Linked DNA regions of Homo sapiens. The protein of the gene in region 3 purifies or fractionates together with the protein of the main gene of each other region. This does not show direct contact. Each region holds a gene or a part of one and is shown on either strand. Other genes may lie near its edges. The genes, in order: MAGEB10, NHSL3, ARHGAP12, ASAP2, RAPH1, WASF1 and DMBT1.

The links.
Region 1: the proteins of ARHGAP12 (region 3) and MAGEB10 purify together in Homo sapiens (affinity purification with mass spectrometry; one large-scale study listed by BioGRID and IntAct). This does not show direct contact.
Region 2: the proteins of ARHGAP12 (region 3) and NHSL3 purify together in Homo sapiens (affinity purification with mass spectrometry; one large-scale study listed by BioGRID and IntAct). This does not show direct contact.
Region 4: the proteins of ARHGAP12 (region 3) and ASAP2 purify together in Homo sapiens (affinity purification with mass spectrometry; 2 studies listed by BioGRID and IntAct, with this or other methods). This does not show direct contact.
Region 5: the proteins of ARHGAP12 (region 3) and RAPH1 purify together in Homo sapiens (affinity purification with mass spectrometry; one large-scale study listed by BioGRID and IntAct). This does not show direct contact.
Region 6: the proteins of ARHGAP12 (region 3) and WASF1 purify together in Homo sapiens (affinity purification with mass spectrometry; one large-scale study listed by BioGRID and IntAct). This does not show direct contact.
Region 7: the proteins of ARHGAP12 (region 3) and DMBT1 purify together in Homo sapiens (affinity purification with mass spectrometry; one large-scale study listed by BioGRID and IntAct). This does not show direct contact.

Annotation. Positions count from the first base shown.
Region 1 is NC_000023.11:27,810,990-27,814,489, reverse strand, and holds part of MAGEB10 (melanoma-associated antigen B10), read right to left. Parts: intron 1-3,500.
Region 2 is NC_000001.11:32,744,241-32,748,624, forward strand, and holds part of NHSL3 (NHS-like protein 3), read left to right. Parts: intron 1-4,384. UniProt on the Homo sapiens protein: Able to directly activate the TNF-NFkappaB signaling pathway.
Region 3 is NC_000010.11:31,810,037-31,814,420, reverse strand, and holds part of ARHGAP12 (rho GTPase-activating protein 12), read left to right. Parts: intron 1-59; coding exon 60-162; intron 163-1,597; coding exon 1,598-1,714; intron 1,715-3,673; coding exon 3,674-3,772; intron 3,773-4,384. UniProt on the Homo sapiens protein: GTPase activator for the Rho-type GTPases by converting them to an inactive GDP-bound state.
Region 4 is NC_000002.12:9,398,540-9,402,923, forward strand, and holds part of ASAP2 (arf-GAP with SH3 domain, ANK repeat and PH domain-containing protein 2), read left to right. Parts: intron 1-1,483; coding exon 1,484-1,533; intron 1,534-2,202; coding exon 2,203-2,291; intron 2,292-2,734; coding exon 2,735-2,857; intron 2,858-4,384. UniProt on the Homo sapiens protein: Activates the small GTPases ARF1, ARF5 and ARF6. Regulates the formation of post-Golgi vesicles and modulates constitutive secretion. Modulates phagocytosis mediated by Fc gamma receptor and ARF6. Modulates PXN recruitment to focal contacts and cell migration.
Region 5 is NC_000002.12:203,482,945-203,487,328, reverse strand, and holds part of RAPH1 (ras-associated and pleckstrin homology domains-containing protein 1), read left to right. Parts: intron 1-4,384. UniProt on the Homo sapiens protein: Mediator of localized membrane signals. Implicated in the regulation of lamellipodial dynamics. Negatively regulates cell adhesion.
Region 6 is NC_000006.12:110,169,232-110,173,615, reverse strand, and holds part of WASF1 (actin-binding protein WASF1), read left to right. Parts: intron 1-4,384.
Region 7 is NC_000010.11:122,629,661-122,634,044, forward strand, and holds part of DMBT1 (scavenger receptor cysteine-rich domain-containing protein DMBT1 isoform e precursor), read left to right. Parts: intron 1-179; coding exon 180-333; intron 334-627; coding exon 628-830; intron 831-1,300; coding exon 1,301-1,621; intron 1,622-2,194; coding exon 2,195-2,215; intron 2,216-3,200; coding exon 3,201-3,230; intron 3,231-3,530; coding exon 3,531-3,681; intron 3,682-4,384.

The DNA.
Region 1 (3,500 bases), on a different chromosome or scaffold from region 3:
CAAGTAAAACTCAGTTATTTACTTTGCAAATTTGAGGATTTCTTATTTATTGCGGGTGTGGGGTAGTCTTCCCCAGTTGGATTCAAGACTCCTATAATTTATGTCAAAGACTAATTCCTTCCATCCCTTCAACTATCCTTCCATCCAAACCACCCCTATTTTCATTTCTTTCACTCGCATCAAAAATCTAGCCCTCACTTGAGTTTGCCAAATGATACTAAAGACAACCTAATAAAAATGCCCTTTTAGGAACAACACACACCGGGTCCTGTTGGGGTGTGAGGGGCAGGGGGAGGGAGCCTAGATGATGGGTCAATAGGTGCAGCAAACCACCATGGCCCATGCATACCTATATAACAAACCTGCACATTCTGCACATGTATCCAGGAACTTAAAGTACAAGTTTTTTTAAAAGCCCTTTTAATTAAGTGGGTTTAGTGGGCTCTTGTTTCTCCCAGGCCAGAGCAAATAATGCCAGCACAATGGCTTTTGAGCACATTCATGTCAGGTCACCCTTGATTCTCAGAAGGTCCCTGGAGCTGATGTGCATAAAACATAGTTTGTGGACTGTGCCCAACTGCACTGGAAAAATGACACTGGAAAAGGATGCAAGACACCTTCCATTCCCATCTTACAATTATTTCTGGTTTATCTATTACCTCAAAATAACTGCTAAAAGCACTTCTTCATTCTAGGCATTAGTCTTTTTGAGGATCTGGCCCCTGCTCTGTACTCCCACAGCCTCAACCAACCCACTATCCAGACTAACAAAATTGACTGACACTGAAGGGTTTGCAGTTTCCTAAGGCCCCAAACCCACTTGCCTCAGGACATTTTCACTTGACTGCTCTGATCTGGATCTTCCCACCTTCTCTTACTCATCCTTTACTTCTTAGGGTATATCTCACCATCTTCCTTACATGACAGCTGCTCTTAGACTCTACAATTCAGTGCGTGCCCTTGGGTCTTGTTTATCCTGACATTCCCAGTACCAGCATGGCGCCTTCCCTCCAAAGAACAGATGCCCAAGTAATGTTTGAGAAATAAGTGAGCCAGTGTGCAAGAAGTCAGTTTTATTATGATGTTCCTTCTCCTACATTGTTGAATAAACTAATCATATCTAAGTATCTATCTCTTAATTTTACAGAACAGACTAAACATAACGGAATGAAAGCATTTATCATCTTTTACATTTTACCTCTATTTCTTCATCCCAACTATTTTACTGCTTTTTTAAAAAAATATTTCCAAGGAAATGGCTAATCCACTACTATGTTATCTCATTGGAGATCACTAAATAAGATGGAAATTTTCCCATTTTTTTCTATAAAATAGTAAAACTCTACTCTAAAACCTCACAAACATCAATAAATGTATGACTTACTATCACTTATAATCTTGGATTCTTAAGCTACTTTAACCTTCTATTAAAAGGAACAACGTTTAAATATCCAAGTTACCCAGAACATGTTATGTACTATGTTATAACGAGACACAGCCAACCCTCCACTAGTGAAACACTGACTGTCCTCTTCAAAAACACAGTAAAGCATTTTCCTCAGCCTTCACTTGGAGCAGGCAAGGCTGCTGGACGTGGCCTTGGAACGTGCACTGGCCATGGTGGCAGTACGGGCCCTGGCTGCAATTCTGGCTTGGGATCTCTCTTCCACATCTTTCAAAGCCTCTTCATAATGGGATGGGAAGGCACTGGGGACTGTACCATGGATCTTGGCCAAAAACTCTAGGACTTTCATCTTGCTGGTTTCAGCATAGGCTCGTGGACGCCACAGGAATTCATAGCTTGGAGGACTGCTGTTGGGCACTTCCCAATACTCCAGGTACTGCTCTTGCACTAAATCTTTGGTGAGGAGGTTCCTGGGCTCTCCATAGATGACGTGCTCCTGTCCCTCGTATACCCCCATCATATTTAGCACCTTCCAGACTTCCTCCTCAGGGGCACAATTCCCCTGGCTGAAGATCGCACTCAGGATGGTCATCAGCAGGCCATTCTTGGGCAAACTTCTGTTAGGATTCACTCTTGTGTCATGGCCTAATTCTAGTTTGTTGACAAGGACATAGATGCTCTTGTTGGGATCCACTTCTCTCACGTCAAGGCCAAAGACCAACTCCAGGTGATCAGAAGCTCTCCTCAGGATCTCAGGGAAGAGGCTCTTTTACGTCTGGATTACATTTTTCAGCATATCTGCCTTTGTAATGGGCTCTTGCATTTGACATTTGTACAGCAGGTAATGCACCAACATAGCAATCTTCTTATCTATAGGGCCTCTGGGCCACTGCCCAGTGGTAGCCTGGGCCTGTGAGGCATTTGACCTTTCCTCAACTTGGCTGTCGATGCCTTCATTAGATGCTGTGCATGAAACAGCTGCAGCAGTGGTGATGGCTAGAGCTATCCCAGGCTCTTGCTCATTGCTGGGTGTTTCGACAGCAGATGACCTCTCAGGACTATCTTTGAAATGAGGAGATGAAGTGAGGGACTCTCCTTCCTCTGCTACAGTGACTTGAGCACCTTCCACGTCCTTGGGCTCTTCTCGAGCCTGGCGGCGTTTCTCACGGGCACGGGGCTTACTTTTCTGACCCCGAGGCATTATGACTCTGCTCAGAGGTAAGTAGTAGTGTGAGACAGATGGCAGGTGATGAAGTGACCTCAAGGAAAGAAGGTGTGATCCTCCAGCAGGAAGATATCACCTTGACTTTATGGAAGTTGCTTCTGTAGGTTTCTTTGAGAACACTGTTCAAGGATCCTATGAGGCTACTCTTCTCTGAAGGGCCTTTCCCCTGAGGAATCAGTGGAAGTAACTAGACTGTACCTTTGCTGAAGCCTGCCAGTATTACCTGCATCTTACTGGGACTGATACAGTGACTGGCAGGTCCAGACTCTATGGAGCTTCCTTTTTTTCTGGGGTAGACGATGTTTCTTTCAATTCACATTCAGGGCCATCACCTTGACTTCTGGCAGGACCTGTTATCTCACTGCTGAACTGTTTTGATGCTGACTCCCTCATTCCAAAGCGCTCATATCCTTGACTCCCCAGACAAGAAATTGAGGGGGAATCTCATGTGACCACATTTGCAGGGGGACATTGTGGAATGGCAGCAATGCAGAGATCGGTGAGACCCTCTTTATCTTGAGGTAATTAGTTTTCAGTCCTCAGTCTTTACTTTTGCTTCTTGGAGGGTCTGATTGCCCTCCTTTTGCTTACCTGAAACCTATCCCCTCCAAGCAAGGCCTTCACATCCCTGACATTCCTGATAAAGATATTAGGGAGGCCTCAGATGTATCTTCCCCAGGGACCCCTATCAGGAAAGACAGCACTCTTAGGGCTCTATGAATCCTCTTTTACTTCTGGAAATTCAGGTTCCTCCTAATGACTCCTCACCTTGACAGCCTCATACCTTCCCCTCTGAGGACTTGAGGCCTATACCAATCAGAGAAAGGCCCTCTTCCACTTGATATCCCAGAGTATGCAGTTGGAGGGAGG
Region 2 (4,384 bases), on a different chromosome or scaffold from region 3:
ATTCCTCTAATCTGACTCTCCTACTTTAAGATGGAAAAACTGAGCTTGTCATGGAGTTTTGAGCACCAGTCTTCCATGATTCCCTTGCTGACCTCACTACCCTGCACAAACTTAGAAGAAGAGAGGAAGTCTGACATTTATTGATTAGTCTGAATATGTCAAGATCTTACTTGCAGATGAAAAAATTGAGGCTCAGGGACAGTGAGTGACTGATTTGACCAAACGGATTTAAACTCAAATCACCTGCCTCAAAAATCGGGACTGTTTTCATGACTCTCCCAAGGACATAGAGCAGCAGGTAAGGCTTGAAGATCTTCTTGTTCAACTCACTTTACAGATGGGAAATGGCCCAGAGAGAGAAGTGAGGGAACTTGATAGAGTGGGGAGAGTATCAGAATCAGGCCAATGAGAGTTTAAATCCTGGCCCAGCTACTAGCAAGCCCCATGATGTAGGATGAGCAACTTCTCAGTGGGCTCCCTGATTCCACCACTGTCTTGTGGGGAAGAAAGGGGGAATCCTCTGGCTGGACATTGCCTTGATGGGCTGTGACCTTTCTGTCTCACCAAGATTCTCACAAGAGAGCATATGAAAATTATATTAAAGGCTGGGCGTGGTGGCTCATGCCTGTAATCCTAGTATTTTGGGAGACCGAGGCGGGCAGATTGCCTGAGCTCAGGAGTTCGAGACCAGCCTGGGCAACACGGTGAAACCCCGTCTCTACTAAAATACAAAAAATTTGCCAGACAAGGTGGCGTGCACCTGTAGTCCCAGCTACCCGGAAGGCTGAGGCAAGAGAATTGCTTGAACTCGGGAGGCGGAGGTTGCAGTTAGCCAAGATTGCACCGCTGCACTCCAGCCTGGGCAACAGAGCGAGACTCAGAAAAAAAAAAAAGAAAAAAAAAAGAAAATTATATTAAAGAGAAGTAACCATAGAAATGCAAGGGGTTGCTATGCCTGTGTTTATAAGTTTAGTCACCTGAGCTCTAACGACCCAGTCTGGAAGGAATGGGCTCTGGGCCTAAGAACAACTTTGCTTGACTGGGCGTGGTGGCTCACACCTGTAATCCCAGCACTTTGGGAGTTTGAGGTGGGTGGGTCATGAGGTCGCGAGTTTAAGACCAGCCTGACCAACATGGTGAAACCCTGTCTCTACTAAAAATACAAAAATTAGCTGGGCGTGGTGGCGCGTGCCTGTAATCCCAGCTACTCAGGAGGCTGAGGCAGGAGAATCGCTTGAACCCGGGAGGTGGAGGTTGCAGTGAGGCGAGATTGCACCACTGTACTCCAGCCTGGGCGACAGAGCGAGACTAGGTCTCAAAAAAAAAAAAAAAAAAAAATGGACAACTCTGCTTCCCTGGTCTGCCCCTCTCAAGCTACAAGATGCTGGCAGGTTATTCACCCCTCCAAGCCTCAGTATCCTTATCTGTAAAATAGGGATAATAAATCCTAGCTTTATAGGGGCCTTTCCAGGATCAAATGAGCTAACAGACATGCAAGTGCGTTGTGAACTGTGGAGCATGGTGCAGCTGGCAGCAGGTTTCTGCTGTTGTTATGCTGCTGAGGACTTGAGCATTAGTTAAGTTCACCCTGATCCATGTTTGGAAAACAGCCCATGATGATGATGATTATTGAGGGGGATTCACAGAGGATAGAGTCTCACCTTTGTCCCACAGGAGGACTCAGACATAAGAAAAAGTTAAAAAAACAGGCCAGGCACGGTGGCTCACGCCTGTAATCCCAGCACTTTGGGAGGCTGAGGCGGGCGGATCACAAGGTCAGGAGATTGAGACCATCCTGGCTAACATGGTGAAACCCTGTCTCTACTAAAAAATACAAAAAATTAGCCAGGTGTGGTGTCGGGCGCCTGTAGTCCCAGCTACTTGGGAGGCTGAGGCAGGAGAATGGAGTGAACCCGGGAGGCGGAGCTTGCAATGAGCCGAGATCGCGTCACTGCACTCTAGCCTGGGCGACAGAGCGAGACTCCAGCTCAAAAAAAAAAAAAAAAACAAAAAAGAACAAGTTAAAAAAAACAAAAACAAACAGGAATCCATATCTTCCAGAAATATCACCTGGACTCTAGACAAGTGTGTGGGTAGGAAGTGTTTCTGGGACAGATGCCAGGATTGGAGCCCAGCAGATAATCAGGGGAGGCTTTCTGGAGGAGGCGAGCGCCTATGGAAGGAGGGCAGGGTCCTGGCTAATCTGAATGGGAAGAGAAGTAACAGGAAGGCTGCTATGTGCTATATATACCCTGGCCAGGCATTTTCATCAAAGTCTTCCTATGTCCTTACAGCAACCTGGGAGGTGGACAGTTACCACCATTTGTAGGTGAGAAAAAAGGGGTGAGAGTAAGTAGCCCGAGGTCACTCAGCTTCATTTATTTGAAGAGGACATATTCTTTACTCTGGAGTGTAAGGCACTGTTCAAGGTGATGTGAATGCCAGAGGACCAGACAGGCAAGGTCCCCATCTATGTGGAAGTGAGGTTCACAGCATCACAATGACGGAGCCACTCAGTCTGCCTCCAGAGGCCACACTCTACAAAGAAAATTATATGATGATGGCTGTGTTTCTGACTCTGGAGGCAGGTAACCTCTCTAGAGTTTTAGACAAAACCAGTTTTGGGGAAAGGGGTATGTAGTCCTCCTGAGGGTTTCTCTTGTGCAGTGGGCAGCGGCTGAGGGGTGGGAGTAGGCATGGCTCTGATACTGAGAATTTGAGAGCTACCCTGCCAGGCCTAGCTGACTTAGCCCCATGTTAACTCCAGTCAGTTCACTGTGGCCTCTCCAAGTTCCCTCTGGCCACTCAGGGAGGACTGTCCTTTCATGGTGTGGAGTTGTGGAGAGAACCCTGAGTTTGAGTTCTGCTCTGTTGTATGACCTTGGGTAAGTCCTGCCCCTCTTTGGACCAGACATGCCCTGTCTTGACAAAGATGGTTTTTTTTTTGTTTTGTTTTGTTTTTTGAGACAGAGTCTCACTCTGTCGCCCAGGCTGGCGTGCAGTGGCGAGATCTCAGGTCACTGCAACCTCTGCCTCCCAGGTTCAAGCGATTCTTCTGCTTCAGCCTGGGACTACAGGTGAGTGCCACCGTGCCTGGCTAATTTTTGTATTTTTAGTAGAGATGGGGTTTCACCATATTGGCCAGGCTGGTCTCGAACTCCTGACCTCATGATCCGCCCGCCTTGGCATCCCAAAGTGCTGGGATTACAGGCGTGAGCTACCGCGACTGGCCGACAAAGATGGGGTTTAATGGCCTCTGAGACTCTTGCTAGTTCTAGGATTCTGTGAGTTTGAGAATGGGCTGAGGGAGCAAGCCTGTAGGGGCTGGGGGCTAGGCATGGAGATGGGAGCTGTGTCCAGGAAAGGAGAGCTGACCTCCAGCCAGCCAGATAAGACACTGAGACCCAGTGGCCTGGATGTCATAGGAAGGGGAGTAAGGTGGCTGGGCGTGGTGGCTCACACCTGTAATCCCAGCACTTTGGGAGGCTGAGACAGGTGGATCACTTGAGGTCAGGAGTTCAAAACCAGCCTGGCCAACATGGTGAAACCCCGTCTCTACTAAAAATACAAAAATCAAAAATTATGGCCGGACACAGTGGCTCACGCCTGTAATCCCAGTGCTTTCGGGGGCCAAGGCGGGAGGGGATCACCTGAGGTCAGGAGTTTGAGACTAGCCTGGCCAACATGGCGAAACCCCATCTCTACTAAAAATGCAAAAATTAGCTGGGCATGGTGGCATGCATCTGTAATCCCAGGCTACTCGGGAGGCTGAGGCAGGAGAATAGCTTGAACCCAGGAGGCAGAGGTTGCAGTGAGCTGTGATCACGCCATTGCACTTCAGCCTGGGCAACAAGAACAAAAAGCTCCGTCTCAAAACAAAAAACAAAAATTAGCCAGGCGTAGTGGCAGGCGCCTGTAGTCCCAGGTACTTGGGAGGCTGAGGCAGGAGAATCACTTGAACCCAGGAGGCGGAGGCTGCAGTGAACTGAGACCACGCCACTGTACTCCAGCCTGGGCGACGGGAGTTCAACTGGGCAACAGTTTCATTCAAAACTCAAAAAAAAAGGAAGGTGGGTAAGGAGAGTCCATTATGAACAATGTCATTTCTCTCTGCTGAGGAAGGGGCCTAGATAGTTCCAAAGCAGTCAGAGTCAAGTCTCTGGGGTCGTGGGCGCCTTGCCCTTCTGAGGTCAGGATGGTGTCTGTTTGCCCGTCAGTCAACACTCCCATGTGTTTTCCCCTTCTGTGTCAGTTCCTGTGCTGCTTCTCCTGCCTGGAATGTGCTCCCCTTCACTTTGCTATCCAGTGAACTCCTATTCAGCCCTCAGGGCCTGGTGTCAGTGTCATCTCTGTGATACTCCCAGGGGAAATTATTGTCCCCAGA
Region 3 (4,384 bases):
ATTCCAACTATAGTAATACTAGAAGTGTAATATGTGTTTGGGAAATATCTAACCAATAGGCAGTAGAAACTGATGAAGGAATTGAAGAGGAGATACCGGATTCACCAGGAATAGAAAAGCATGATAAAGAAAAGGAACAAAAGGATCCCAAAAAGCTTCGTTGTAAGTTGTCCTTTCCCTATTTTGCTAAGGATTTGTGCTTGTTCTCTTAGCTTTTTGAAGGTTTTAAATACATATATAAAAGCTGAATGGAATGTCCAATGTTACAAAAGGGCTGTGCAGTTAACCAAGTGCAGTCTCAGTGTGTCAGCGCTCTTTCTTCTTGTTAACTCATTATTGTCGTTTTTCAGCCTCATAGTATGCATCCTGTGGCATCACATTAATTTTAAGGTATTGTGCTACTTTCAGAGAAGAAGTATAGTGCATTTCTGTTGAGGCCTCTAGGAAGCTGAACTTCATTGATTTAAAAATATATACTTACTGTTTAAGATTCTACATAGAATCTTATACTTTTTAAGAAGTCAAAAGTCATGGAATATGTACCATAATTTCCTACTGGACACCAGGCATCCATCTCTGGACTAGGATGTGTCTGTGCATGTAAACAGATGCAAGCGTTTCTATCTCCAGATCTTACTACAGAAAGGAGCATAGCAAAAGCCAGCAGCTTTAAGAAAAGCATTTTCTAATGTTGGCCCCTTATGAATTACATTGCTTAAATAGGCCGTTAGCTTTGTGACTTGGTACTTTGTTCAGTCTATTTTAACAAATCCACGTTTAACTGAGAACTTTTTGGCCTTCATATTAACTGAATGATTAGAAAATCAGTACTACTTTTCTGTATTTCTAATGAACTTTAGGCCTATTACTGACATTGTCAACAGGTAGCAATTTAACATAAAAAGTGATTATTTTTTATTCTATATTATAGATTCTTCATGCTCTCAACTTCCCCCAAATAGAATTATTTTCAAGAAATATACCTTTTGAATTTTTGTTACTATAACAGAAAAATCAAGACTAAAGGCAATGGAGGACATTTTCCATGTAGTCCCATTTGTAGCTTAGAGTACAAATAATTATGATGAAAGTTAGCTTAAAATACAAGTATAATAGTTATGATGGTTATATGTCTATATTTATATCTCTATATATTTGTGTGTATATCCAGTTTTCTTATTCAATGAAGATAGGGATTGTTTTGTTGTGTATTTTATGTATTTTTACTTTTTGGTGGTCATTTTACCTTCTAAAACTGATGGAGAATCAATAAAGATAAGTAGTTAATCATTTATGAAATAAAGAATATGTTAGAGTAAATTAGGGATGTCTTGGCAGATATACCATAGAAGGTACAGTTGTCATCTGTTTTTAGTGATAAAAATGAAATGTTTTGTTTGGTTTATAACTTTGAAATGGGGTCTGTGTTAATGTAATTCTTCACATCTTGTCCTTAAACCACATTAAAGTTAAAATAACTGAATTGTACTATGATCTTGACATATGAGGTTAATGTGTTTTGCATGCTAGCTGGAAAAACTTGTATCAAAAAAACTTTATTTTTACAAATGCTCATTACCTGTCTTTTTGTCTTAAGCCTTTAAAGTATCTAGCATAGATTCTTCAGAACAGAAAAAAACCAAGAAAAACTTAAAGAAGTTTCTTACACGACGCCCCACTTTGCAAGCTGTTCGTGAAAAAGGTTATATTAAAGGTTGGTAGGAGAAGTATTGTTGATAATAATGAATGTTGGCCTACGTCATAAATAAAATGTTTCAAATTAAAAACAAACATTTTCAAACAGTAAGAATATTATTCTTTATTCATGTATTCAAGTACAGTGATTAAAAGACATTAAGTAATTAAAATAGTTTTTTTGAAAGTTTATTTTAACTAAAGTAGTGGACAGACATAAATAACACACTAAACTTTTAGAAAGCCTGTTTCAGAGGAACTACATGGATGTGATGGGTGGCAGACTTTTAGAAATTGTGACAATGAAAAGTTTAGTTTTGAGATGCAAAGATCACAATAAATAAGAAATTTTGAATATCACTAACAATAGAAAGAAAAATGAACAAATAATTTTTACCCTTGGCTGTCATTTAAGGTAACTGAAAAATTAGCATAAGGTGTTTTTTTCTAACTAATTTATTTGCCTGTTATTTCATTTATAAGCACTATAATGGACTAACAATCTTTTTTTTATAGGAAAATATTCTTTAAAAAAATCACATTACTTGTGTATGTAGTTCTTACGAGCGTGTTTAATTCCAAAGGTAAAATTTTCTAATACCTGACTTAAAACAATGGCATTTATTTGTAAATAAAAATAAAAGTAAAGATAATATAGTCTATAATGTATATCTCTGTCTCTGATTATTATGAAATTTCTAACAAAGACCATCTATTTGTGAAGCATCTGCATTAAAACACGCAAGCCAGTTTTATTAAGAAGGTATTTAAGGCCAGGTGCAGTGGCTCACATCTGTAAACCCCCCACTTTGGGAGGCAGGAGGATTGCTTGAGTCCAGAAACTCAAGACCAGATTGGGTAACATAGAGAGACCCTCTCTCTACAAAGAATTAGTTGGGTGTGGTGGCACACACCTGTAGTCCTAGCTACTTAGGAGGCTGAGTGGGAGGATCGATTGAACACAGGAATTAGAGGCTGCAGTGCAGCTATGATTGCACCACTGTCCTCCAGCCTGGGTGACAGAGAAAGACTGTCTTAAAAAAAATAAAATAAAATAAAAAAGGTATTTAAGACTTCTAGGAAGAGACTAGCTGATTAATTCAAATTAGGTACTCTCCAATAAAGCATTTGAATTTGTATGATGAGTTCAGAGTCTTTAAAAACTTAAAAAAAAAAAAAAAAAGCCTGGCAAATAAGTGAATAGAAACTGTTGCTAATTTGTTCACCAGGCCTTTTCCCTGAGAAATATAAACTGTTGTCACTTTATGTCCTTATTCATCACTTCAAATTGTTTGTTTTCCTGAACATTTACCACTAATATGGAATTTCAAAACTGTTGGGTTGAAAGATCAATAGAAGAGTATTTGAAATGTATTTTGTGAAATCAAATGTTGGTACGTGATGGACGGACATATGCTTATTTTAATAGTTTTTAAAATAATCAAGTATTTACTAAGTGCCAGGCACAAGCCTAGGTGCTATGAATACCTGTTGGTGTTCAGGAACTACATGGTCCTTGGTCCTCTCCCTCATGAAACTTATACTCAAGTAGGAAGTAGACAAGATAATGTGAAATAGTAACAAATGCTGTGAATCTAACACAGTAATAAAATAGAATGTGTCTAGAACTGGGTTCTCTTAGGTAAGGATGGTCAGAGGGGTTATTAAAGTAGGTGACATTTTAGCTGAGACCAGGAGTGATAAGAAGGAGCCAAATTGGGTAGAAAATTGCTTTCTGCAAAAGCAGTAGAAAGTACAAAGAATTTTCAGGCAAGAGTGAGTAAGGGTTTGTATGAGTTTGGAAACGAATTGTTTGAAGTGAAAAGAAGTAGGCAAGATGCATATTGCATAAGGCATAGGGCCATGTTAAACAATATTTGGTTACGCTGGATGTTTCTGTTGCACTCTGAATGGTTAGCCATTTCATGAACTGAATTTCAGCAAGGTGATTGACTTTTTAAAAATAAATCTTTTTCAGATCAGGTATTTGGATCCAATCTCGCTAATCTGTGTCAGAGAGAGAATGGCACAGTACCAAAGTTTGTGAAGTTATGTATTGAACATGTTGAAGAACATGGTAAGAGAAGGATTTTGATTTTTTTTTTTAACATTAAGCAAACCAGCTTCTTGTTTTGCCATCAAAATTCCTAGAATTTTTATGATTTTGAGTGATGCAAACAGAAGTTCCTTATAGTCCTAAGATGTTAAGAAAATAATTTTGTTTACAAATACTTACATGTTTACACCTGTTTCAAATTAAGATCTCTCCAGGCATCTGCTGAATGTTTGGTACTCACAGTTAATTAAGTATATGCTATTCTTTGATGCCATTTCATTTAAGCATTTGCTTAAAATGAAGAAGGTAGTGATTGTGAAATTGAGCTTGTTTTTAAGAAATAATTTGACAATGTATAAGATCCGAGGAGATTGTGTTTACTTACTAAGTTTCTTCTGTCCTAAAAATCAGATGACATTTTAAATGGTTAAGTCAACCACAAATGTCTCACGAGATAAAAATTTTTATGTCATTTTCTGTAAAATAGGACAAACTAATTTCTATTGTGATTAATTTAAACATAGCTATAATATTTATACTAGTTTTATATACATTAGTATATTGTAATCACATTAACTTATCTCTGTATATCATGAAAGAGATTTTGTACAATTAAAACACATAATTCAATTT
Region 4 (4,384 bases), on a different chromosome or scaffold from region 3:
GCTCACACCCGTAATCCTAGCACTTTGGGAGGCCGAGGTGGGCAGATCACCTGAGGTCAGGAGTTTGAGACCAGCCTGGCCCACATGGTGAAACCCCGTCTCTACTGAAAATACAAAAAATTTGCTGTGCGTGGTGGTGCACACCTGTAATTCCAGCTACTCGGGAGGCTGAGGCAGGAGAATTGCTTGAACCCGGGTGGCAGAGGTTGCAGTGAGCCGAGATTGTGCCACTGCACTCTAACCCGGGTGACAGTGCAAGACTCCATCTCAAAAAAAAAAAAAAAAAATTCACAAAGCCTAAAAAGTTTACTATCTGCCTCTTTAAAGAAAAAGTCTGCTCACTGCTGTCTCAGAGGATCAGGCCTTCCCTGCGAGTGTTCTGTAGTTAGGGATGACTGCCGGCCAGGGGGTCAGCCAGGTCAGTGTAGTGATGTCTGCAGAGACATTTACACCCAGAGACACAGATGGAAAACAAATGGCTAGACTGGTCAAATGGGAGGGGTCTTTGTTTTATGGAATAAAACAAAGTTCCTTTTCAGTTCCTTCAGCGTATGAGCAAAACCCATGTGATGTTTTCTCTCCCTTCATTCTGGGACTGCAAGCATTGAGGCCAGACAGGGTTCATTCCGAGCAGCGAAGGGAGTGTCGACAGACGGGAGCGTACAGTGGAAAGAATCCCATCCTTGCCTTCCCCTTCCCTTCCTCCCTGGTCTTCCTCTTCTGCTTCTCCAGCCCCCGTCCTGTGCCTGGCTTTATGCTAGGTCCAGGAGATCCACCGGGGAGCTGAAGCCACTGGCACTGGTCCTTAGCTCTGGAGTTGACGGATCTTGTGTCACACCTTTTGCAGATGAAAATGCTGACTCTCCAGAACCCATTTATCCAGGGCTGCCAGGTGGCAGGTTCGAGATGAGGGACCCCTCTCTGCCAGCCCTGAGAACTACTTCCTCACTCATGTGTTTCTACCTTGTGGCTTTGGGGTGTGCTGGCCCAGAGGTTCATGGATGGGGCTTGAGCCCGTGGTCAGCCACATTGGTTCCCAGAAGCAGGGACGGCAGAGGCATGGACAGCGCTGACCCAGAGTGCTCGGACCCGTCCTGGCAAAGCCATCTGGGCCTGAGGTTAAGGTTCAGCCCTGCCCTTTCATGTGATGGGACCAAGGCAGGGAAGGGGCTGAGCAGACTCGGGGCGGGGCCAGTGGCCAGTGCCCAGCATCACTCCAGACCCTGGCCATCGGTGGCAGGCTCACGTGGACAGAGTGCTCTGGAAAAGCCCTGGTTTTAGGATCAGAAACGTTGAATTTAGCACTTTCCTCAGGGCCTCTCATTCTTCCTTTTCCCATAAAAAAGAGACAGCTAAGTGACAGTGGAGGAAACCACCTCACACACTCTGAGCTTGAACTCAGAAGGTTCTCTGATAAAAGGGGATGAGAAAGGGGCAGGTGCCCTCCGGTAGCAGTAAATCTACTTTTTCCCTGTCTTTGTAGGGCTGACAAGTCCACCCCACTGACCAACAAAGGCCAACCGAGAGGACCTGGTAATTATTTAATTTGGGACTGAGTTTGTTTCTGCTTGGTCCATGGGGGCAATGTGGGGGATGTTTCCTGCCAGGTGGTCAGGACTGAGGGAGGGCCCAGCTGTCTGCCATTCCACAGCCCTCCTGCCCCCTCCCCTCCTGCCCCCTCCCCTCCTGCCCCCTCCCCTCCTGCCCCCTTCCCCTCCTGCCCTCTTCCTCTCCTTCCTTCCCTCCTTCCTTCCTTCCTCCCCCACTCCTGCCTTCCTCTGCTCCCTTCTCCTCCTCTCCCCCTCCCTCCCCCATCTCATGCCTTCCTCCCCCGCCACCTGCCTTCCTCCACCCCTCCCTTCCCCTCCCCTCCTCTCACCCTCCTCCCTGCCTTCCTCCTCCCTCCTCCCTCCTGCCATCCTCCCTCCTCCCTCGGCCTCTGAGACCCCTGCTCCTGAGCAGCTCAGTCCTGGGGCCCCTCACCTGTCCCCTCCTGCTGACATGGCAGGCTCACTGGGGGACACTCGCTGCCACACAAGCTCTCCAAGGTCTGCATCCAAGTCAGAAGGTTCCCTTTCCCCTCAACAGATCGGAACACCTGGGGAAACCTGCTTTCAGACACACCCTGTGGCTTGTACATTGTTTACATCTCATGGCTGTGATTGATGGGATGTCTTAAGCTGCTTCATTTTTGCCCTACAGTGGATCTCTCTGCAACGGAAGCTCTGGGTCCTCTGTCCAATGCTATGGTCCTGCAGCCCCCTGCACCCATGCCTAGGAAGTCGCAGGCAGTAAGTGACGAGCCCCCTTTCCTGCCTCTCTGCTCTAGCCAGGGGGGTGCAGGTGGTTTCACAAGGGCTCAGGGGAAGCAAGTCTTCCCCTCTTCCCCTGGCTGGGGCAGGGCGGGGCTCTTCTTGGTACCTGACTGCTTGGATCTGGGCAGCTGGTGGGTTTGGCCCTCCTGCCGCAGCTCCACAATGGGCCCACTCAGAGTACCCTGCCCCGGCCGCTTCGTTTCCCAGCCCTTGGCCCCTTCTCTCTGCTTGGTGGGGAGCTCTTCCCTTTTCTCTCCCTGGCTCCTGAGCTGCACTGACCTGCCCCACCTTGGCATCTGCAGGCTTCTCAGGCCTAGGTACGGGACTCCTGAGACCGGGGAAGGCAGGGTGCTTGAGCTCTCTGCCCTGAGAGCTGAGGCCTGCAGCCACACTAACCGTTGTTCCCTCTCCTGACCCAGACCAAGTTGAAGCCTAAGCGGGTGAAAGCGCTCTATAACTGTGTGGCTGACAACCCCGATGAGCTCACCTTCTCCGAGGGGGATGTGATCATCGTGGACGGGGAGGAGGACCAGGAGTGGTGGGTGAGTCAAGGGTGGGCCTGGGAGGTTCCTGGGGGCTGAGCCACGTCCCTGCCCACCTGGCTGGAGAGACGGGCTTGCAGGTGAGGTTTTCTCAGCCTGAGCAGTCCAGATGTAGTTCCTGGTGCCTCCGCCCCTTAGCATCCTCAGGAGCTGCTTCCTCCATGGACACCCCCTTCTGAGCAGGCCTGATTATTCCCCAGGGTGGCTTCCTCCCCTGTTAGGGTGCAGTTTCCACAGCACTCATGAGGGCCTGAAATGACACTCCTTCATTTTGAGGTCTTGAGTTTCTAGGTCATCACCCCCCATTGCTGGATTAGTGGAATCGGGTGTCTGGAGAGAGCTGACCTAGAGCGCAGAGCCCCAGGCCTGAGTCTGGTCCTGAAACAAGCTGTGGCCGCCCAGGCGTCCAGCAGGGTGTGGGAGCAAGATGAGTGCCGGCCACCTAAGAATTCAGACTTGGCCACTCAGGGGCTGGTGGCTTGGGGCAGGTTGCTTTTATCTTTAAGCATTAGTGGGATCATCTGTGACAGGGAGGTCACACACACACAGTCTGGTGCAGGTGATCTTGTGAGCACCCACTAAGCGGCAGCTGCAGACAGTGAGGGCGGTGGATGAACCGGCTTGAATGGGGCGTGGACAGAAAGCCCCAGGCTGAGCCCACCACACAGTAGACGCAAGTGGCACAGCTCCGCAACTGAGCTCAGAGCAGACAGTTCAGCTGGGAACTCACAGGATTTAGGGGAACTTCTTTGTCGAGTGCGAGGAGTTTGGACACTGTCTTTAGTCACTGTCCCTCCCAGAACTCCCACTAGTGTTTAAACTGCATGTCTTCAGCCTCCAGAGGCGCTGTGAGCTCTCAGGGCCAGGCAGCACTGCCTTCATTTGGCAGAGCTGGGTTCACCGGTCTTTCCTGTGGCCTCGTTTGCCCTTAATGGATTGAAAGTGTCTGTGGCCTGGGCGCGGTGGCTCACGCCCATAATCCCAGCACTTTGGGAGGCCGAGGCAGGCGGAACACTTGAGGTCAGGAGTTCGAGACCAGCCTGGCCAACATGGTTCTCTACTAAAAATACAAAAAATTAGCTAGGTGTGGTGGCAGGCACCTGTAATCCCAGCTACTCGGGAACCAGCCAGCTCCCACAGTTGCCCACAACCCACCATCCGGAAGGGGCGCCAACCTGACCACAGGCTTAGCCATGTGGAAAATACCTGCTCATTTCCAAAACTGGAAAATAGAGGCATAAAGAAGAAAACAGAAGTTGCCCATAACCACAGCACCCCCCACCCACTCCACAAAAAGCCCACCATTCATATTTTGGCTGTTTTTAGCCTTTTATTTGCCTACATCATTTACACTCTTGAGATCATATTTGGATATAATTTATGTATCTACCCAAGAGGGAACATAAGTGGATAGAGTGAAGCCTTCCACAAGTACTTAACTCATTGAAATGGGGCCAACTTATACCTTTGCCACTTTAGGTGACGTTGCAGCTCACAAACTTGTGACACTCAGTTCATTCATTCATT
Region 5 (4,384 bases), on a different chromosome or scaffold from region 3:
TAATATGTATCATTTCATGTCCTTTAGATTTACCTGCTAGGATATGAGCAATATTTTATTAGGGATGTGCTTTCTTGGCCATTCTTTGTTTTGTATGTTGATATTCCTTCCAATCAGTTTACAGTATTTTGAGTTGGATTAAGATGCGTGAGGGACAAGTTATAAACTAATCATTAAGGATCTTCTAATACCGTATGCATGTCTTTCTGTCTGTAAAATGTGCTCATTATAAAAGTTCATACAGTATAGGGGCAAATTGAAGTAAAACGTGAAAAGTTCCTCTCTCCCAGCAAGCGCACTTCAAATGGTATCTAGTGGTATCCATGGGTATCACTGTGAATACTGCAAAGATACCAGTGCTCAATGGTATAATGTTTAATATAAGAGTTTAATGTAAGGTTTGGTGAGTAAACCAGGACTATAGCAGGGAAAGGAGTTAAAAAGCCTTATCTAGCTAGCCTGTTCTTTTGCCTCACCTAGGAGTATAGAAAGGTGGTTTAACAAACCCGGAACTTGCTTCCATTTGCTTTTTTCCTAGGTCTAGTCTGTTCTGATTCAAATAAAGTAAACTGAGGCAAGCTTAATATATCCTGAACTCATGTATCAAATTGTCTTTAAGTGCAAATACAGTTTTAAAAATATTTTAGTTTTTCATGCATGGCGTTAAATAGTTCTATGAGATATGTTACGGAAAACTATCCTCTACTCACATACACATCATATTCTGCTTCCAGAGGTAAGCAATTTTTGCTCATTTAGCTGATTCTTAGGGACTTTACCTCTTTATCATTAAGTCTACATACACATTGCCATTTCTTGATTTTCTTTTTAGTGGTATGTATTACCTATTGACTTCTCACTCTACTCCAGAAGATGGAGGGTATAGCTGTCTATATACAGCTTCTTCTCACTTCTCCCTTCCTGTTTTTCCATTCTCCAAATATATTTTGATTGAGCTCATATTCAGTGTTTATATTAAAATGACTATATACTTGAAATTTACTGCTAACCTCCATATACTCTTGTGACTACATCCCCTTTCTGGAATATCATTTTACTTTTACTGGAATGAATATATGTTTAAAAATATTTAATTTTCTATATGGTGATCACTGTTTCAACTTCAGACTTTCTCCCAGTTGATTAAATCTCTCTGGTTCAAGCCAAATTAGCGTTCCATTAATTGCATCTTCTTAAAATTCTATTTATTTCTTTTCTTTCTTTTTTTTTTTTTTGTAGTCTTCAGGATTATCCTTAGGTTTTTTTTCCTAGGCTGGTGAGCTTCTCTGGAGAAGATTCTTCCAGTCTTCTATGCTGGCTGCCAGTGTTTTAGTAGCCCATTTGGGAAAGAAGGGTTGGAACATGAGGATGGTCCCCATTGTTCCAGTCTATGAACTTTCATCAAATCCTTCTAGGTCAGGGTTTCTCAGCTATCAGCACTATTGACATTTGGGCTAGATAGTTTTGTGAGTGGCTGTCCCATGCACTGTAGGATGTTTAGCAGCATCCCTGGCCTGTACACACTAGATGTCAGTAGTACACATTTACCTTCTTCAGTTGTGACAACTAAAAACGTCCGTAGACATTGTTACATGTTGCTTGTAGGACAAAATCCACCCCCAATTGAGAATCACCACTGCTCTAGGTAGAGAGGGTTAACAGTAGGCCTGAGTCCTTTTCTTCGTGGAAAATGACCTTGGGTTTTCCTTCTCCTGGCATTCTTTTCCTGGACACATACTGGATTAAGAATTAAATATAGAATATCTCCAGGTAATATTGTTTATTGTGAAACTGACCCCTGTTGGTGAGTGTATATGGACCAGGAAGACTGTCCATGAATGAATAAATTAGCCTATGAAAAGACATAGACCTTGACTTCGTGGTGTGCAGTGTAACTCTTTTTTTTTTTTTTTTTTTTGAGACAGAGTCTCACTCTGTTGTCCAGGCTGTAATGCAGTGGCGCAATCTCAGCTCACTGCAACCTCCGCCTCCCAGGTTCACATGGTTCTCATGCCTCAGCCTCCCGAGTAGCAGGGATTACAAGCACATGCCACCACGCCTGGCTAATTTTTGTATTTCTTTTTTTTAGTGGAGACAGGGTTTCGCCATGTTGGCCAGGCTGGTCTCGAACTCCTGACCTCAAGTGATCCACCTGCCTCGGCCTCCCAAAGTGCTGGGATTACACTGTGGGAGCCACTGCACCTGGCCAGCAGTGTAACTCTTATAAATGAGCATGAACGTGTTCTTTAAGGGGCCCTGGAACTTAACCTCATTGGCTGTTAAAAGGTACTGCTGGTTCCCATGGAGCATGAAGTTTCCCTAAGCCAGGGTGTTTTCTGCACTTACCATGTGGTCTCTTTCCCTTACAATGAGCTATTTATGGGCCCAAAAAGGGCCTGTGGTGAGCTGTATGGACTCCCTCAGAAGATGGCATGTCTCTTTTTATTTATTCAGAACTGAGTGAATCTGGCTTCAAGCTATGGTCTGTTGGGTCTTGTCAGCGAATGTTAATCTGTACCTGAGACCACTGCTGGTGGGTGAGTGAGTAAAAGAGGGAATCTGAGAATTAGCTGCTTTCTTAAATGTGTTTTCAACCATTCTTCCTGCTTTTAGTCGCACCATCACCTGTCTACTCTTGCTTCTGAGGACTTCTGAGGTTACACGATATAAATTGAGTGCTCCTCTGCTTTTCTCCAGTGCTGGCCCAGCATTCAGCTTCTCTTGGATTTGCTAAATTGGTTACCACTCAGCCATATGCTTTTTTTCCACATCTTCCCACCCCCATTTTAATCCCTGTAAAACAATGCTTCACAACTTGGGCTACTTTGTCCTGCTGGGTATATGCAACATTTTTGGTTGTCCATCAAGGGCGTGTGCTACTACTGGCATCTAGTGGGTAGAGGCCAGAGGTGCTGCTAAACATCCTACAGTGCACAGGACAGCCCACATGAAGGATAATTATCTGGCCCAAAATAGAGCCAAGGTTGAGAAACCACATTTTAAATCGTGTGGCACCTGTTAGTCACGATCAGCAAGGTGGCAGTTATAGTACGTTGTATGAAGTCCTTCTGTTGAAAGTTTCTAATAAAGATCAAGAAAGTACCAGCATCAAATCTTCTTAGATTTAAGGAAATATAGGTATCTTTGGCCAGTCCCTCTCTCCTGAACTCCAGGTGCATATATTCCATCTCTAATCAATATCTCTATTTGGATGTCTAATTGTGTATTATATTTCTCCAGAGAGATAGAACCAATAGGATATGAGTGGGGATTTATTATGGAAATTAGCCCACACCATTATGAAGGCTGAGAAGTCATGTGACAGGCTGTCTGCAAGCTGGAGACCCTAGGATGGTGGTAGTGTGACTTAGTCCAAGTCAAAAAGCCTCGGAACCAGGAAAGCCCATGGTATAATTATCAGTCCTAGGCTGAAGGCCTGGGTACCCAAGGGAGGCTGCTGGTATAAGGCCTGCAGTACAAAGACTGGAGAGCCTGGAGTTCTGATATCCAAGAGTAGGAGCAGAGTGTCCCACCTCTAGGAAGGATAGGGAGGAAATCACCTTTTCTCTGCCTTTTTTGTTCTATCTGGGGCCCTCAGTCAATTGGATAGTGCCTACCCACAATGAGGATGGATCTTCCCCACTCAGTCCTGGTTCACACACCATCTCCTCTGGAAACACTCTCACAGACATACCCAGATGCTTTACCAGTTCTCTAGGTATTCCTTAATCCAATGAAGTTGATACCTAAAATTAACCATCATAAATAGATTGCTCAAATTTAACTGGTCTAAACCTAAAGTCCTGCTCTTTCTCTTCAAACTTATTTCTCCCACTGTCTTCTCTATCTCAAATAATGGATATTCCATCCGTCTAGTTCATCAAGCAAACTCCTTGGAGTCTTTATCTACTTATTTTCTTTCTACCTCCCTTTCAATCCAGCAGCAAATTCTGTTGGCCTTATCTTCAGAATATGTCTAGAATGTGATCACTTCTCACCGCCTTCACTGCCACCAAGCCAATATCATCTTGATTTAGATTTTTGAATAGGCTTCCTTCTGGTCTTTCTGCATTCACCTTTCTCCCTTAACAGTCTATCATCCACACTGCAGCCAGAGTGATCCTTTTGAAAGATAAGTCAGATCATCTCTTTTCAAACCTAAAGGCTTTGCATCTCATGGTATAGCCCAAACCCCTATAATGCCTATAAAGCCTTGCCTGATCTGCTTTCCCATTACCACCTATTTTTCTTCCTTCTGTCCCTTACCCCACTAGCCATACTGTCCCATACTTGTTCTCAGCCAGTAGCCAGAGCCTGCCTCTTAGCCTTTGCACTTATTCAACCCTGCCCAGACGCCTTTCCCCAGTCTTCTGTGTAACATTCT
Region 6 (4,384 bases), on a different chromosome or scaffold from region 3:
ATAAGTCCTCCTTTTTGCGTAAACTGTTAGAATTGTATTTGTGGTACTTGTCAACCAGCAAACTGAGTCCTCTCATAGATCAAGTAATTTGCTCAAGGTCACATGGCTAATAGAAATGGAGGTGGAATTTGAGCACAGATATGTGTGATTTCAAAGTCCCATTTTTTTCCTACTCCCTTATGCTGCAAAGGTACCATTTCTTAAACTAAAGGTCCTAAAGAAATTCTAAGTAGGTGGGTTTTGGGTGTGATGACATCTGTTGGATGATGATGACAGCAAAGTTTTTTTGTTTTTTTGTTTTTTTAATTTGGTGTGCTTGATAGTAGTTAGTCCAGCATGTAGCCATTCTTTATTCCTAACCTAGCCAGGTCTACTCCAATAAAGTTACATTGACTAACTTATTTGAAAAGAAGAAAAGCTTATGTGTCAGGGCATGGAATAACTTGTTTGATTCCTTTACCAAAAAAGTCAAGTGTGTTATGTTTTCACCTTATGCTACAAAAGTAAGTTTGTTTTCTAGTTGTTTTAATAGGGACATCTTGCTAAATTTGTTAAATTTGCTAAATTTTTATAACATGCATGTGCTACAGGTTATGCCAGAGAATTGTGAAAGGGTTAAACGAAAAGGGAGGAACAGTGAAGCATTTTATATTTTAGTCGAGGATGAAGACTAGCACTCACTTCTTAAAATTATTTTTATAGATTTAGAGGGTACACGTACAGTTTAGTTACATGGATATATTGCATAGTGGCAAAGCCTGGCTTTTTAGTATAGTGTACATTGTACCCATTAAGTAATTTCTCACCCCTCACCCACCATCTATCCTTCCACTCTTCAGAGTCTCCATTATCTATTATTCCACTCTTTATGTCCATGTATACAAATTATTTAGCTCCCACTTATAAATGAGAAAATATGGTATTTGACTTTCTGTTTCTGAGTTAGTTCACTTAGGATAATGGCCTCTGGTTCCATCCATGTTGCTGCAAAAGAGATTATTTCATTCTTTTTAATGGCTGAGTAGTATTTCATTGTTTGCATTTAAATTTTCTTTAATTATCCATTGATGGACACTTAGGTTGATTCCATATCTTTGCTATTTTGAATAGTGGCACTGATTTTTTTTTAAACCAAAATAAAAGCCCTGTGTGGTACATCATAATACACAACTACAAATTTATCAATTTTGTTATTTTCAAGGAATCTTCATTTAGTTTCATTGTTTTTTTCTCTTGATTTCCTGTTTTCAATTTCATAGATTTCTGCCTTAATTATTCCATGGTGTATATGTGCCACATTTGCTTAATCCAGTCTGTCATTGATGGACATTTGGGTTGGTTCCAAGTCTTTGCTATTGTGAATGGTGTCGCAATAAACATACGTGTGCATTTGTCTTTATAGTAGCATGATTTGTAATCCTTTGGGTATATACCCAGTAATGGGATTGCTGAGTCAAATGGTAATTCTAGTTCTAGATCCTTGAGGAATCGCCACACTGTCTTCCACAATGGTTGAACTAATTTACACTCCCACCAACAGTGTAAAAGCGTTCCTATTTCTCCACATTCTCTCCAGCATCTGTTGTTTCCTGACTTTTTAATGATTGTCATTCTAACTGGCGTGAGATGATATCTCATTGTGGTTTTGATTTGCATTTCTTTAGTGACCAGTGGTGATGAGCATTTTTTCATGTGTCTGTTGGCTGCATAGACGTCTTCTTTTGAGAAGTGTCTGTTCATATCCTTTGGCCACTTTTTGATGGAGTTGTTTGTTTTTTTCTTGTAAATTTGTTTGAGTTCTTTGTAGATTCTGAATATTAGCCCTTTGTCAGAAGGGTAGATTGCAAAAATTTTCTCCCATTCTGTAGGTTGCCTGTTCGCTCTGATGGTAGTTTCTTTTGCAGTGCAGAAGCTCTTTAGTTTAATTAGATCCCATTTGTCTTATTTTGGCTTTTGTTGCCATTGCTTTTGGTGTATTAGTCATGAAGTCCTTGCCCATGCCCGTGTCCTGAATGGTATTGCCTAGGTTTTCTTCTAGGGTTTTTATGGTTTTATAGATCCTTCTACTTTTCTAATACAGACTTCATGATATTTTCAACTTAAAATAGGTTTATTGGGATACAACCCCGTTATAAACTGCGGACCGTCTGTATATATACTTGGTGCCATAAATTTCCCTCCAAGCACTGCTTTTGATGTATCCCACACATTTTGATAAATTGAATTTTCATTTTCACTTAATACAAAGTATTAAAAAATTTCTCTTGAGACTTTGAACCATGTGTTATTTAGAAGTGTGATGTTTAATCTCCAAATGTTTTGAGATTTTCCCATCTATCTTTCTGAGATTGCTTTCTGGTTTAATTGCATTGTGGTCTGAGAGCATATACTGTATTAGTTCTGTTCTTTTAAATTTTTTCAGGTGTGTTTTATGGCCCAGAATATAGTCTGTCTCAGTGAATGACTTATGTGAGCTTGAGAATAACATGTATTCTGCTGTTGTTGGTTGAAGTACTGTATAAATATCAGTTAGATCCAGTTGATTGATGGTATTTAGTTCAACTGTATTGTTACTGATTTTTTGCCTGTCAGTTAATTACCGATAGAAGGATGTTGATATCTCTAGCTGTGATCATGAGTTCATGTTTCCCCTTGTAGTTTTATCAGTTTTTGCTTCACATTTTGATGCTCTGTTAGGTGCATATACATTAAGAATCATTAGGTCTTGGAGAATTTGCCCCTTTATCGTAATGCAATGCCTATCTTTATCCCTGTTAATTTCCCTCGCTCAGAAACCTACTTTGTCTCAAATTGATACAGCTACTTCAGATTTGTTTTGACTCGTGTTAGCATGGTATATCTTTCTCCATTTCTTTACTTTTAATCTATTTCTACATTTAAAGTGGGTTTCTTGTATACAATATATAGTTAGGTCTTTTTTTTTTAATCTACTCTGTCTCTTATCTTTTAATTGGCATATTTAGACCATTCACATTTAAAGTGATTATTGACATAATTGTATTAAAATCTACTGTATTTGCAACTTTTTTTATTCATTGCACTTGTTCTTTGTTTCATTAAAAAGAAAAAGTTGGCTGGGCTGGTGGCTCACACCTGTAATCCCAACACTTTAGGAGGCTGAGTCAGGCCAATCACTTGAGCCCAGAAGTTTGACACCAGCCTGGGCAACACAGTGAAACCTTGTCTCTACAAAAAAATACAGAAATTAGCCAGGTGTGGTCACATGCACCTGTAGTCCCAGCTACTTGGGAGGCTGAGGTAGTAGGATCACTTGAGCCTGGGAGGCGGAGTTTGCAGTGAGCCAAGATTGCACCACTATACTCCGGTCTGAGTGATGGAAGGAACCTCTGTTTCACCCCCTCCACCCCCAAAAAATGTCCTCTCTTTTTCTGCTCTGACTTTAATTGAGCACTTTGTATGGTTTCCTTTTCTCTCCTCTCTTAGCATATCAATTATACTTCTTTCTCTTTAAAATGTTTTGTAAGTGGTTGTCCTAGTTTGCCTCTCTTTTTGTATGATTACCGAGGAGAAGTCCAATCTAATTTTTATCCTTGTCCCTCTATAGGTAAAGTGGTTTCTCTCTGTCTTTCAAAATTTTTCTTTGTCTTTGGTTTTCTGCAGTTTGAACATCACATGCCTAGGTGTAGATTTTCTGGTATTTATCGTGGTTGATGATCTCTGAGCTTCATGGATTTGCTGTTTGGTTTCTTAATTTTGGAAACATTTTGAGCACCTGTATATGCTAGGCATTGTACTAAATATCTTACGTATTTGATTTAATCCTCACAACAACCCTGTGAAGAAGTATGATTCTCATTATTTGTGGTGGAAACTAAGTTTTAAGTATAGACCACTACAGAATTTTTTTACAATAGTCACTAAAATTTAACTGCCTTGGGCTTACCCCTGACTTAAGCTTCCTCTAGATGTAATGAAAAAATGGGATTATTTTGATTTACTTGTTAGGTCGCAATACTGGAGGTGAGTGTTGGGGACTGATTTCAGAGTTCAAGTCATGTGCAGTGTATCAGATTTGTGTACCATCAAAGGAGTTGAATGAAAATGGCTGTATTGTGTCCTTTTGATGAGATGCAACTGTTTTACCAGCAATTTGCATACATTTGAAAGTTGACTGAACTGGTTAATGGAGAATCCAGTACTTTGCTTTAATTTAAAGATGATCTCAAATCCTAAGTGATTTGGTGCTGTTACTAGAAATAGAGAAGCCCAAAGAATAAGTTTCCTTTTTGGGGAGAGTGGGGAATGATGGATAATGAATTTGATTTTGGATATTTTGAATTTGAGTTAGTGAGATGTCCCTGTGGAGCTGTCTGGCAGACTGATAGCACAGGAGTATATATTG
Region 7 (4,384 bases), about 91 Mb from region 3:
AGCTTCTAATGTTGGGCCACCTAGAACCAGGCCCAAGAGAGGGGACTTGTTTACAGGGAAAGTTAAGTCTTGTTATAAAGTGCAGAAGATGAAACTGGATGATACTTACACAGATGATTCCTTGTCACAAAATACCTGAAGACCTGGTACAATGGAGATGTCCCCTCTCTCCTCTCTAGGACCCTCTTCAAATTGTGGTGGCTTCTTATTCTATGCCAGTGGGACATTCTCCAGCCCATCCTACCCTGCATACTACCCCAACAATGCTAAGTGTGTTTGGGAAATAGAAGTGAATTCTGGTTATCGCATAAACCTGGGCTTCAGTAATCTGAAGTAAGTAATGCCTGGTCATCTGGTGAGGGGTGAGTTCCTCTGCAGCACACCCACTGGTTTAGACTGTGTCCTGGGCTGGGATGCTTTTCACTCTCATGTGCCATGGACAAGCTTTTGGTGGCTTTGATTCCTACCATAAAGCATCAGGGAACACTGATGTCCTTTGACTTAATTGAGGAAGAGCTAGAAGAAAAACCTGTATTCAATGGCATCCCTCGTAAAGTGCAAACTATTTATAAAATGGAGGGGCAATAGGAATTTCAATGTTGACTTGAATACATTTTCTCCATACAGATTGGAGGCACACCATAACTGCAGTTTTGATTATGTTGAAATCTTTGATGGATCATTGAATAGCAGTCTCCTGCTGGGGAAAATCTGTAATGATACCAGGCAAATATTTACATCTTCTTACAACCGAATGACCATTCACTTTCGAAGTGACATCAGTTTCCAAAACACTGGCTTTTTGGCTTGGTATAACTCCTTCCCAAGCGGTAAGTGCACACTAGACCATGCCTATGAGGCTTGGTGGATTTACCCAGCTGCCTCTTTGGGGGCACCATGGTTCCCCAAGGAAATCAAAGAAGGGCCTCAGCGATGCACGGCCCATTCTCTTTCTCTTGGCACTGACTGTGTGGGCAGGCCCTTGGGAAGGCAGCAAAGGGTGCAGACTGGGGGTTCCACCTGGCCTTGGGTCTGCCACCAACTCTCCAGGGGACCTGGTGACTCTCCTTCAGAGCCACCCCTCTCCGTCTGGAGGTGAGGGGATCTGAGCTTGGCGATGTCTAGAGCCCCTTTCAGCTCTGCATGGAGCGGTCCAGTACCTCCACCCCAGCTTTTCCACATTTCTATTTGGCGACTTTAGAGGTGGGAAAAGGCCTGTGGGATGCTTGGCCTTTGAGGTTTGTTGTGGGACATTTGTTGTGGGACATGGCCATGATCTCTCAGTTAATGTGTCTTTCAGATGCCACCTTGAGGTTGGTCAATTTAAATTCATCCTATGGTCTATGTGCCGGGCGTGTAGAAATTTACCATGGTGGCACCTGGGGGACAGTTTGTGATGACTCCTGGACCATTCAGGAAGCTGAGGTGGTCTGCAGACAGCTAGGGTGTGGACGTGCAGTTTCAGCCCTTGGAAATGCATATTTTGGCTCTGGCTCTGGCCCCATCACCCTGGACGATGTAGAGTGCTCAGGGACGGAATCCACTCTCTGGCAGTGCCGGAACCGAGGCTGGTTCTCCCACAACTGTAATCATCGTGAAGATGCTGGTGTCATCTGCTCAGGTATGGCCCAATGCCATGGAAGGCCCATTTCACCTGTAACTTGCTATAAAGCAAGAGCTTAAGGCCAGTGGCTGATGGTGTCTGTGGCCCAGGCAGGAGCTGGTCATTGTGTCCTCGTGGCCTGCGCACTCCAGAAGAGCATGCAGGGGGCTGCTTTATCTTTGGCCAGTTTCTGGACCCAGGGCCATTATGCTGAACACTCATCTGACTAAAGGACCTCCAGCAATGATTTTACTTCTTTATGCTTCAGTTTCCTTGACTGTTGAGTCGGGGTGGCTATGATAGTACTTGCTACTGGTGACAATTGGGATGGTTTTAGAACAATCATGGTCAAGGAGAGAGTGATGGGTGTTATGACCTCAGCTGTAATCCTGATGACCACAAGTATGACGGGACTTAGGGAGCATCTGGGGAAGCTGGGAAGGCTTCTCAATAGCAATTGCTGGGTGGACCTGGGGACCCTCGCCGAGGGGGGTCAGGTTATGGGCCATGTAAGTGTATCTCTGTCTCATTCCGGCCCCTCCTCCAAGCCACATGTCTGTGACCTATGCTTTTTTTCTATTCCTTTTTCAGGAAACCATCTATCGACACCTGGTAAGTCCCTCCGATTTCCATTCCACTTCCCTGGTCTCCAGGTCTCTCCATTACTGCTGCCTAGACTGTGCAGGGCATGTTGCTCACTCTCCAAGGAGTTCATCTGTGGTACCATCCTCTACAGCCCCTGTCCCCTCCCCTGCCGGCCACCAGGATAGTGTGCCCCTCTCTGTGCTTCAGTGGCCTGACCCACCTAAGATTAGGATCTCCAGTCAGTCCCGAGGTGAGGCCCGCCACCTGTCAGATTTGACTGTCCTCACAGACACCAGACCCTGACCAGTGTTGGCCAAATGGGGCCCACTGCATCGCAGAGCTCCTCCCTGCCTGCCCCTGAGCTGCTCTGAGTGTTCCCAGCATGGCCCTGGCACCTCTCCAACACCCCCCACTGCCCCGCCCCCTGCTTGCTTTGTCATCCCCTCCTGGCCTCCCATAGCAGCAGCTTCAGGCCTGTGCCCTCCCATCCATTCTCCACTGTGCAGCCCCTTCAAGAGATTCCTCAGGGTCTTCTGGTGATGACCCCGCTCCTCAGCACAGCATGACTGCCAGGGCTCCCCATGATCTGCTCCCTATGCTTGGTGCCCTCTCCCCATCCTCTGCCTGCTCCATCTACACGGAGGTTCCCAAATCTATTCCACCCAGGTGCAGTTGCACCTGCTGTTCCTCTGCCTGGGACACCCCGTTTCTACCTCTTTGCCTGCCCCCTAATTACTGCCCTTTTTTCCCCACTCCATCTGGGGCAGGGGCCAGACTTCCAGGCTCCTCTCCTTCCCCAGGCTTTGGTCAATCTCATCCTTTTCCCAGTGTGCTGGGATTCGCTCTCCTCCAGACCTCCCCAAAGGCAAGTGAGCTCCCCAAGGGCAAGGCCTGTGTCCAGCTCCTCCCTGTGGACTCAGGCTTGGCACAGCATCTGCACAGCTCATGAGCAGTCGACAGCTGTGTCAGGGATGCCAGAAAACTGATCCTGATCTTTTCTTTTTGTCAACAGCTCCTTTTCTCAACATCACCCGTCCAAACAGTAAGTTCTGAGCTCCCTGACAAGTCTGTGGCAGAGTGGCCTGGAAATTCCCCTTCCCATTTCCTCAGTGACAATGGGGCTGGGGAGGAGATGGCTTCCCCCAAAGTGGTCTCCCTGCAAGAGTGCCCTGCCAGCCCTCAGTGGACGGTCCAGATCTAGGCCACCTCTTGCTCTTACTTGGTTTCTGTCTTGGGAATTATTTTATAAAATTTTAAAGTAATTTAAATTTAAAGTAGTCCGCAGGTAGACTGTGCAGTGTGCTCTGGGGGTCACCGACATTCCCACTTTTTGTCCTGACAGCAGATTATTCCTGCGGAGGCTTCCTATCCCAACCATCAGGGGACTTTTCCAGCCCATTCTATCCCGGGAACTATCCAAACAATGCCAAGTGTGTGTGGGACATTGAGGTGCAAAACAACTACCGTGTGACTGTGATCTTCAGAGATGTCCAGTAAGTGTGCGCCCAGAAGAATGCCTTGGGGCCCCACAGACCTTTCAAGAGGGAATAAATGGTGCTTAAGTGTGCGCCCAGAAGAATGCCTTGGGGCCCCACAGACCTTTCAAGAGGGAATAAATGGTGCTTAGAAAGCCAGGAGAGAAGTTTGCTGAGAGACATTTTTGACCTAGCCCAGAGGCATCCCGTGGAGAGTTGGGGAGGGGGCACGAGAGCCTTGGAGTGGACAAAAGCTCTGGTTTCAAGTCCTAGGTCTTTCACCAATTTGCTGTGTGACCACAGGAAGTCACTCAACTTTCCTGAGCCTCAGTCAAAAGAGGGGAATAAAATACCTGCTTTCCTCACCTCACTGTTTACTGGGAAGGTCACGAGAAACAGAGAGGAGAGAGAGGGAGAGAGATGTGAAAATATTTACAAAATGTTGTCCAGTGGAAAAGATGGTTGTTAAGTAGTAATGATAGACTTAGGGGCAATAATAGCACTAATAATCCTATTAACAACCACACTGGCCAGGTATGCTGCCTCAGGGTTGTAATCCCAACACTTTGGGAGGCCGAGGCAGGAGGATCACCTGAATGCAGGAGTTCAAGACCAGCCTGAGCAATATAGGGAGACCCCCCATCTCTACAAAAAAGTACAAAAATTAGCTGGGTGTGGTGGCCTGCACCTGTAGTCCCAGCTACTAAGGAGGCTGAGGTGG